Homo sapiens: one gene and its partner. The gene in region 1 interacts genetically with each later gene. Each region holds a gene or a part of one and is shown in the gene's direction. Other genes may lie near its edges.

What was found. A genetic interaction does not mean that the proteins touch.
Region 2: changes in FSIP1 (region 1) and SPPL3 together harm fitness less than expected from each alone (positive genetic interaction), as found in Homo sapiens cells (one large-scale study listed by BioGRID).

The regions. Positions count from the first base shown.
Region 1 is NC_000015.10:39,741,322-39,744,978, reverse strand, and holds part of FSIP1 (fibrous sheath-interacting protein 1), read left to right. Parts: intron 1-3,078; coding exon 3,079-3,174; intron 3,175-3,657.
Region 2 is NC_000012.12:120,785,823-120,789,479, reverse strand, and holds part of SPPL3 (signal peptide peptidase-like 3), read left to right. Parts: intron 1-3,657.

The DNA.
Region 1 (3,657 bases):
GCCTTTGTCATCTGCCAGCAGATGCTGATGTTGTATGTGGTCCCTGCCACATCCTCTCTGGTGGAAGGCTCTATGCCACCCCCTCATCACGACCCCAGTCTTCTTCACAGGGGCATGTGAGAGCTTCTGTTCTCCTTCAAGCCACAGGCTGGCCAGCTGTGGGGAACTGTGTGTGTGTGTGTGTGTGTGTGTGTGTGTGTGACTGAGGGGGAGAGAGAGAGAGAGAGAGACAGACAGACAGACAGACAGACTACTTCAGCCTCTGTCTCCCTGTAAGCATGCCACACTGCCTTTGCTTGTCTGCAGCTGTCATGGGTGGTTGGAGAGCACCATGTTCCTTTGTGCGGGGTCTCCCCTCAGTTCCAGGTGTACAGTGAGGCAGAGCTCACTCTGCTGTGGGTTTCTCCAGCCTCTTCAGGTTCTCTATGCACCTCCAGGATTTCACCTCCAGGGGCTGTGCCGGGGAGCAGCTTAATACCTGTATCACTTGTGTCTACTCTAAACTCATCCCCTCTGCTGGTCTTCCAGGTCCTCTAGGTCCTTATTTGGGATGGGCTTTAATTTCTTCCATGGGTGGCAGGAAGCAATTTAAATCACATCCTGCAATCTTCCTCTTTCAGGACTCATATTAAAAACTTGCTCAATCATCAATGTTTTGGCTCATGATCTCTAAAGGGAGATTTTTTTTTCCTTCTCACATGAATGTTTGTAGTGAAGAGAGGAATTTTTAAAATTTTCTTATTAACTTTGAATTTTGATCAGATTTAAAGTCATAGGAAAAGTACAAAGGATTCTCAAATACTCTCTATCCAGAGTCTCCAAATGTTAACATTTTACCACATTCTCTTTTCTCTTTCCCTCTCCACACAAGGACACACATATACACACATACATGCACGATTATACATATAAATCAGGAAATGATTATTTTGCAATTATCTATAGGCTTTATTGAGATTTTGCCAATTGTCCCTCTAATATCCTTTATAGCAAAAGAAAAATCTCAGGCTATGCATTACATTATTGTCATACCTTTTAGTCTTGGTGTTTTATGACACAGGCATTTTTGAAGATAGTAGGCCTATTATTTTGTAGCATGTCCTCTAGTTTGGGTTGGTTTGTTTCTGCTCGGTTAGGTTCAGGTTATGAGTTTTTGGCAGGAATCCCACAGAAGTGATAGTGTCCTTCTCAATGAATCAGATCAGGAAGTGCATGACGGTGATTGTCCTGATGCTCACAATGTTAACTCTGGCCACTTTAAATGAAAATGGTGTCTACCAGGTTTCTTCATGGTAAAGTTACTATTTTTCCTTTGGTAATTAATAAATTATCTTGTGGGGAGATAGATACTTTGAGGCTATTATCCTATTATTCCTCAAACTGTCACCCACTAGTTTTATCGTTCATTGGTGATACTTACCTGAGTCAGTTATGATGGTTACTAAATGGTTAATTCCATAATTTCTTCTACGTTAATTGTTTTTGAAAAAGAAGGAAGAATTTTCTAAAGGGAGATGTGGAATTCAGAAAATGTTTTTTTTTTCCTCCAAGGGTTAAGCTCTTGCAATTGAATGCCCAACTTTTAAAACTGTTGTCTTTTAAACTCAAAGCCGATTGATGGCACCTTTGTTGTATGTAGTACACACCTCTCTCTGAGGCAATGAATACCACTGGGAAGATGGGCAAAGAGCCACAGGGTCACAAGAGTAATTTCAAATTCTTCTTACCCACCTGCATGACACTGGTCTCAGATAGTCGCTGATCACCTGTGAGGGTTTTCCATATTGTAAATTTTCATATTTTTGTGTCTTTACAGGTGTTTTAATATAAAATTGAGTAAACTGTTATCATAAAGGAATTATGGGATAGAAAAATATATTACCACTTCAGGACTATGATGTAAATGTAACTTAAACTGATAATAAAATGTTGCCAAATTGCTGACTTGCTGAGCCTACTTTTAATGAATATTGAAGACCCCCTAATAATAGTGGTTGCAACAAAAAACTGAAAGTTCAGAAACAGTTTTAAATCTTTTTGTTTTCTAAGTAGTTTACCCCTCTCTCCCCAGGCTTACACCACAAATTTGCTTGATTAACTCATCAAAGATTGTACAAAGACTAACAGTGTAATGTTAACCACAGTTCATAATTCATTATTATGAATTCCAAATTAGGGAATTGGAATTGATGAATTAGTGTTTGTAGCAGAAGTTTTGTGTTTTGAATTAGGTGAATGTGTGTTGAGGGTGAATGTATCTTCTGCCTGCTTCCTTTGTCTGTATCAGCTCATAGAGGGTGTCTGAACTTGGTTTGCTTTCTGGGAGAGGTGGTGGATCCTGTAATATCCTCAAGACTTCCCATATTTTCTGAGGCAAAACCATTTCTGTGCTGCAACCTGGCAGATTCCCTCACATTAGGGTACAGAGACACACTTTTAATAAAACGTTTATGTTAACGGCGTCTTGCAAATATACAGTGTCCGAATTAGCTAATAGGAGAACATAAAAATAAACTACACTGAAACAAAGTTAAGTTGAAAAACACAATGTCCTATCTATCTTCTTTATGGAGGTGCCAAGAAAATACATCAGAAAAGAAGAAAGTTAACTGCTAAGAGTCTCCCAAGTTCTCTCTCACATTCCTTTATCTTAATGACTGATCGCATATTTGAAGTCTCCACCTTGGGGACCTAAAATAAAAAGAGAAAACCATAATTATAGTTACTCAGTATGCATATTCTCTGTATTATGAACATCAAGATTTGGATGCATTATCTCTGGAGAGTTAATGTGTTATTTTAGCACACTCTTACACATCCTTTTTGTGCTTAAGTTCTAGGGAAATGCTGTTTAACTATCTTAGCTTCTGTAGTTTGTTTCATTTGGCTCCTGTATACAAAGGTGATTGTCATTTCTACTTGGAGGTGACATTAACATTGTCTTAAGAAATTTATGTGTGTGGAGGGGACTGAGGAACACTGGAGAGAATATTAAATGTTATCTTTTTAAAACAATTTTGTAGACAACTACTTAATTTATTTTGTGAGCATTGAACAAGTGATTTTTTAAATCAACAGGTCCTTCTCATGAGGAGGAAGACACCTTTTCCTCAGTGTTTCATACTCAAATCCCTCCAGAAGAATATGAAATGCAGATGCAGAAACTCAATAAAGGTATATTTAAATTTGTGTGATTATACACATTTTCACAAGGGAATACTGGCTGTATACAGAAATATTCATAAATGAAATAAGTTCATGTAATTTAATCCAAAGGTAAGTGGAAGCAAGTAGAGTTCAAGATGACACAAGATTGGTTATTGTTGCAGCTAGTTGTTGAGAGTTTGTTATACCATTCTACTTTGGATGTTTGAAATTTTGTATAATAATAAAGAGTTTTTAAAAAAAGCTGGCTGCAAGTAATGAAAACCTGGCTTAAGCAAAAACAAGTCTGTGAAAATGATTTTGGTGGGAGGCAGCTTTCTTTGGTTCCCAAGAGCATATGCTGTGGTTAGTCATTCAGAGGTTGGCTCAGTTCTGCAATCCTAGAGAAGAGCCTGAGTGATCCAGCTGGGTCAGGGGCCTACCCCTGGCTCAACCAACTTGTCCAACCCAGCAAGGTTTGGGGTCACTGTAGGAACATGGCAGCTATGTCAA
Region 2 (3,657 bases), on another chromosome or scaffold:
TTTAAATGCTTTTTTTCTTTTTTTTTTTGAGACAGAGTCTCACTGTCACCCAGGCTGGAGTGCAGAGGTGCAGTCTCTGCTGACTGCATCCTCCGCCTCCCGGGTTCAAGTGATTCTCCTGCCTCTGCCTCCCGAGTAGCTGGGATTACAGGCACCCACCACCACACCTGGCTAATTTTTGTATTTTTAGTAGAGATGGGGTTTCACCATGTTGCCCTGGCTGGTCTTGAACTCCTGACCTCAAGTGATCCTCCAGTGTTGGCCTCCCAAAGTGCTGGGATTATAGGCATGAGCCACTGCACCCAACCTAAATGGTCTTTCTTAACTCTGCCAGCTATGTTGTACTAAATTATCCTTGACAACATTTCTTCAGTGCCTGCTCTGAGCAGTGGATGCCAATAGGATAAGGACAGATTAGCATAGACTGCAAAATTCACTTCCTCAAAGAAGAACATAATGAAGAAGCCATTACAAAGACGGCCGACCAGTACTTGATTATGGAATATAAAATTATTACAGATTGAAAGGATGACATGGAAAACAGGATGAATTTATCAAGAATCAAAGAAATAATAGCCAGAAAGATGAACAGAGAAACAGAGAGGTGTAGGTGCTAAGGAGATGGAAGTCCTGGATGATTAACAATGTGGAACAACTGGGGAGAAGGTTTTGAGAAAAAGAAAGTATAAATTTAGTGTTAAGATTTTGTCAGGAGTGTTTCAGACTGATTGAAGGAGACAGTAATCAGAAGTTTTTAAAAGATTGTAGCTGCCCACTCCCAAAATAATAAGAAACAAGGAATTTGTAAAGAGATAGGAGAGCAGGAGAAGTTGTAGGTGTAGCCAGCATCATTGGTGGGGTACGTGGGTGAAGGGTTACTCTTACGATTACATGCTTTGAATATGTCAGAAATGATTTGACTGTCCTTGATTATAATAGGAGCTAGGAGAAGGAGAAGCATTAAGTGAGACTCAACAGAGGGTTAGATGGGCCATGTGACTCATGCCCCAAAAAATCAGAACTTAAAAATGGAGAAATCAGTTTGTAATTGAAAGTTTCTCGCTGCAGGGTGCCCTAGGGTATTTGACCAAAAGACTGGGTAATTATTACTTCAGATTATAATAATGTTCCACCTATCTGGGCAACTCGAAACACATGGAAGTAAGAGGAAGAGTTGATCAGGCCTGCCAGGAACTATGGCACTCAACTCATTAGAAAGCAGAAAAGTAAAAGTGAAGACAGTAATGAAAAAGCACTACATGCCCACCACCAGAATAGCTAAAATTAAAAACCTTGACCATTCCCAGTGCTGATGAGGATGCACAGCAACAGCAAAGAGCCCTCTTGCGTTACTGGAGAGCATGCGTTAGCACAGTCACTTTGGAAGGCAGTTTGACATTTTACCTACTAAAGGTGACAGTATAAATACCCTTGGACCCAGCAGTGTCACTCCTAGTTATATATCCAGCAAATACAGTCACATGTGCATCAAGTCATGTGCAAGAGTGCCTAGAGCAGCAGCATTTGTAATAACCAAAAAATTGGAAACAACCCAAATGTCAACCGTAGAATGGATAAATTTTACTGTATTCATACAGTGAAAACAAGTGAACTGCTGTAGCTACATAAAACAGCATGGATAATTCTCACAAATCATATTGAGTCAAAGAAGCCAGACACAAAAAAATAACTACATAACTCAATGCATATAAAATTTAGGAAACAGGCAAACTAGTATTTAAGGATGCGTGCTTGGGTGGAAAACGTGTCATAAAAGTCAGGATAGCGGTTCCCTTCAGGAGAATGAGAGAGAGAGAGAAAGTAGTGATTGAGAGGGACACAAAGGAAGATTTCTGGGGTTGGTTTGTTTCTTGACTTGAGTGGTATTAAATATGTAATAATTCATTTTTGTGCTTTTCTGGGTGTGATGCTTCACCATAAAAAAGGTTAGAAAGTGACAGGAGTGAGGGTGGAGGGCAAGAGTTCCCTCCAGGTCCTCTGATTTCCCCTGACCTTGTTCTAACTTCTCTGCCTGCCCCCAAGAAGCCAATATAGAAATTTATTTTCCCATGGCACATCAGTCCTTCATTTAAGTAGTATTAAGTGGAATTTTAAAAAGCCATGTACACCCCTGCCCAATTATCTGACATCTTAAAGACTTTTACTAAACTTCAGTTATAATTTATTTGAGTTATAAAGATTGATGGAGATGTATAGTTGGGATCCTCATCTTTAGTAGAGGTATACATCTTAATCTTCTTGCTTAGATTGTAAACTTCATGAGATCTGGAAATGACTTTCTTTTAATCCCTCCTGTTGCTTACTATATAATAAGTGTTCAGCAAATAGTCAAAAGCATCGTTCTTACAGGGAGGTGTAAAATCAGTAATTTTCTTAATAGTTATTGGTTTTATTGCTCAGTGTCTATTCCATACCAGACGTACATTTAGCCTGTAGCCATGTTCATTGAATGTTAAAAATGATGTTGCTGTACAAAATTTTTAATTCCATTACCAAGCCTATTTCCTATGTTGATTTTTGCCTTAAAGATAATGCAACTGCACTTGCATATGTCCTCCTAATTATGGCTAGTCTGTTTTGCTTTGCTCAGTTTTGCTTTGTTTTTAAGTTACTGGAGTTTGGCTAAAATTTCTAATTAATTACCTCTTTCTTTCCCATTCAAGACCTTTATCTCCAGAACTTTAGGAAATGGAGTACTGAAGTCATGGACATTGTTTTAGGTAGCATATTGTCAGGAACTAAAGGCGCTTTACTTGCCCTGTGACATCGCCTCCTGGTTCAAAAATCTGTGGTTTAAAAAAAAAAAAATCTGTGCATTCTATCTAATACGCCAGAAAGGTCCTTTGTATTCAGTTTCGCATGTAATTGCAGACTGAACTTTTAAAATTTAGCTTTATTATAAACAAATGCATCTCTTATATACCTCACCACTACAGTCTTTATTCTAGCTAGCCATTTAATTTTCTCTTCATACTTTGAATCAGTATAATCTGTCTATAGACTCCCTGATGCTTTGTTCCTATGATAAAGTTATTTATCTGAGAAACATTATTTTCTGTAGTGAAAGGCACTGAAAATCTGTAGCTTCCTCTAGCTGTTCTTTGAACTACTGTAGAGCACTTACATTTAAAAACTATTTAGGTAAAATTTAGTTAGAGATTTCATAGAGTTTTGTCTAATGGATACACTTCCCGAAGTGATCCTTGGGCCAAGCTGAATGGATTTGACTAGGGTCAGGACAGACTGCTTCCAAGATAATTTCTGTTTGTCATGACACATAGTTCACTTTTCCTAAATTGAATTGTCCTATTCCTAAGTGAATTACTTCACTCATCTGCCTAGTCCCTGAGAAGCATTTTGTTTTATAGATTTAGTCAATCAAAAACCCTAAATAACTCTTTTGGGGACAGGCAAATTTAAATACCTAAGAGAAATTTTGTTGATCATTGTAACCCTTTGTGTCTTGCTATGTTTATCCTGGTTACATATTTTATTTGTAGCCTTAATATAATGAAGAGACCTTTCCTTTTTTTTTTTTTTTTTTGCCTTGGACTCCTGGGCTCAAGTGATCCTCCCACTTCAGCCTCCCAAGTAGCTGGAACTACAGGCTCAAGATAACATGCCTAATTTTTTTTT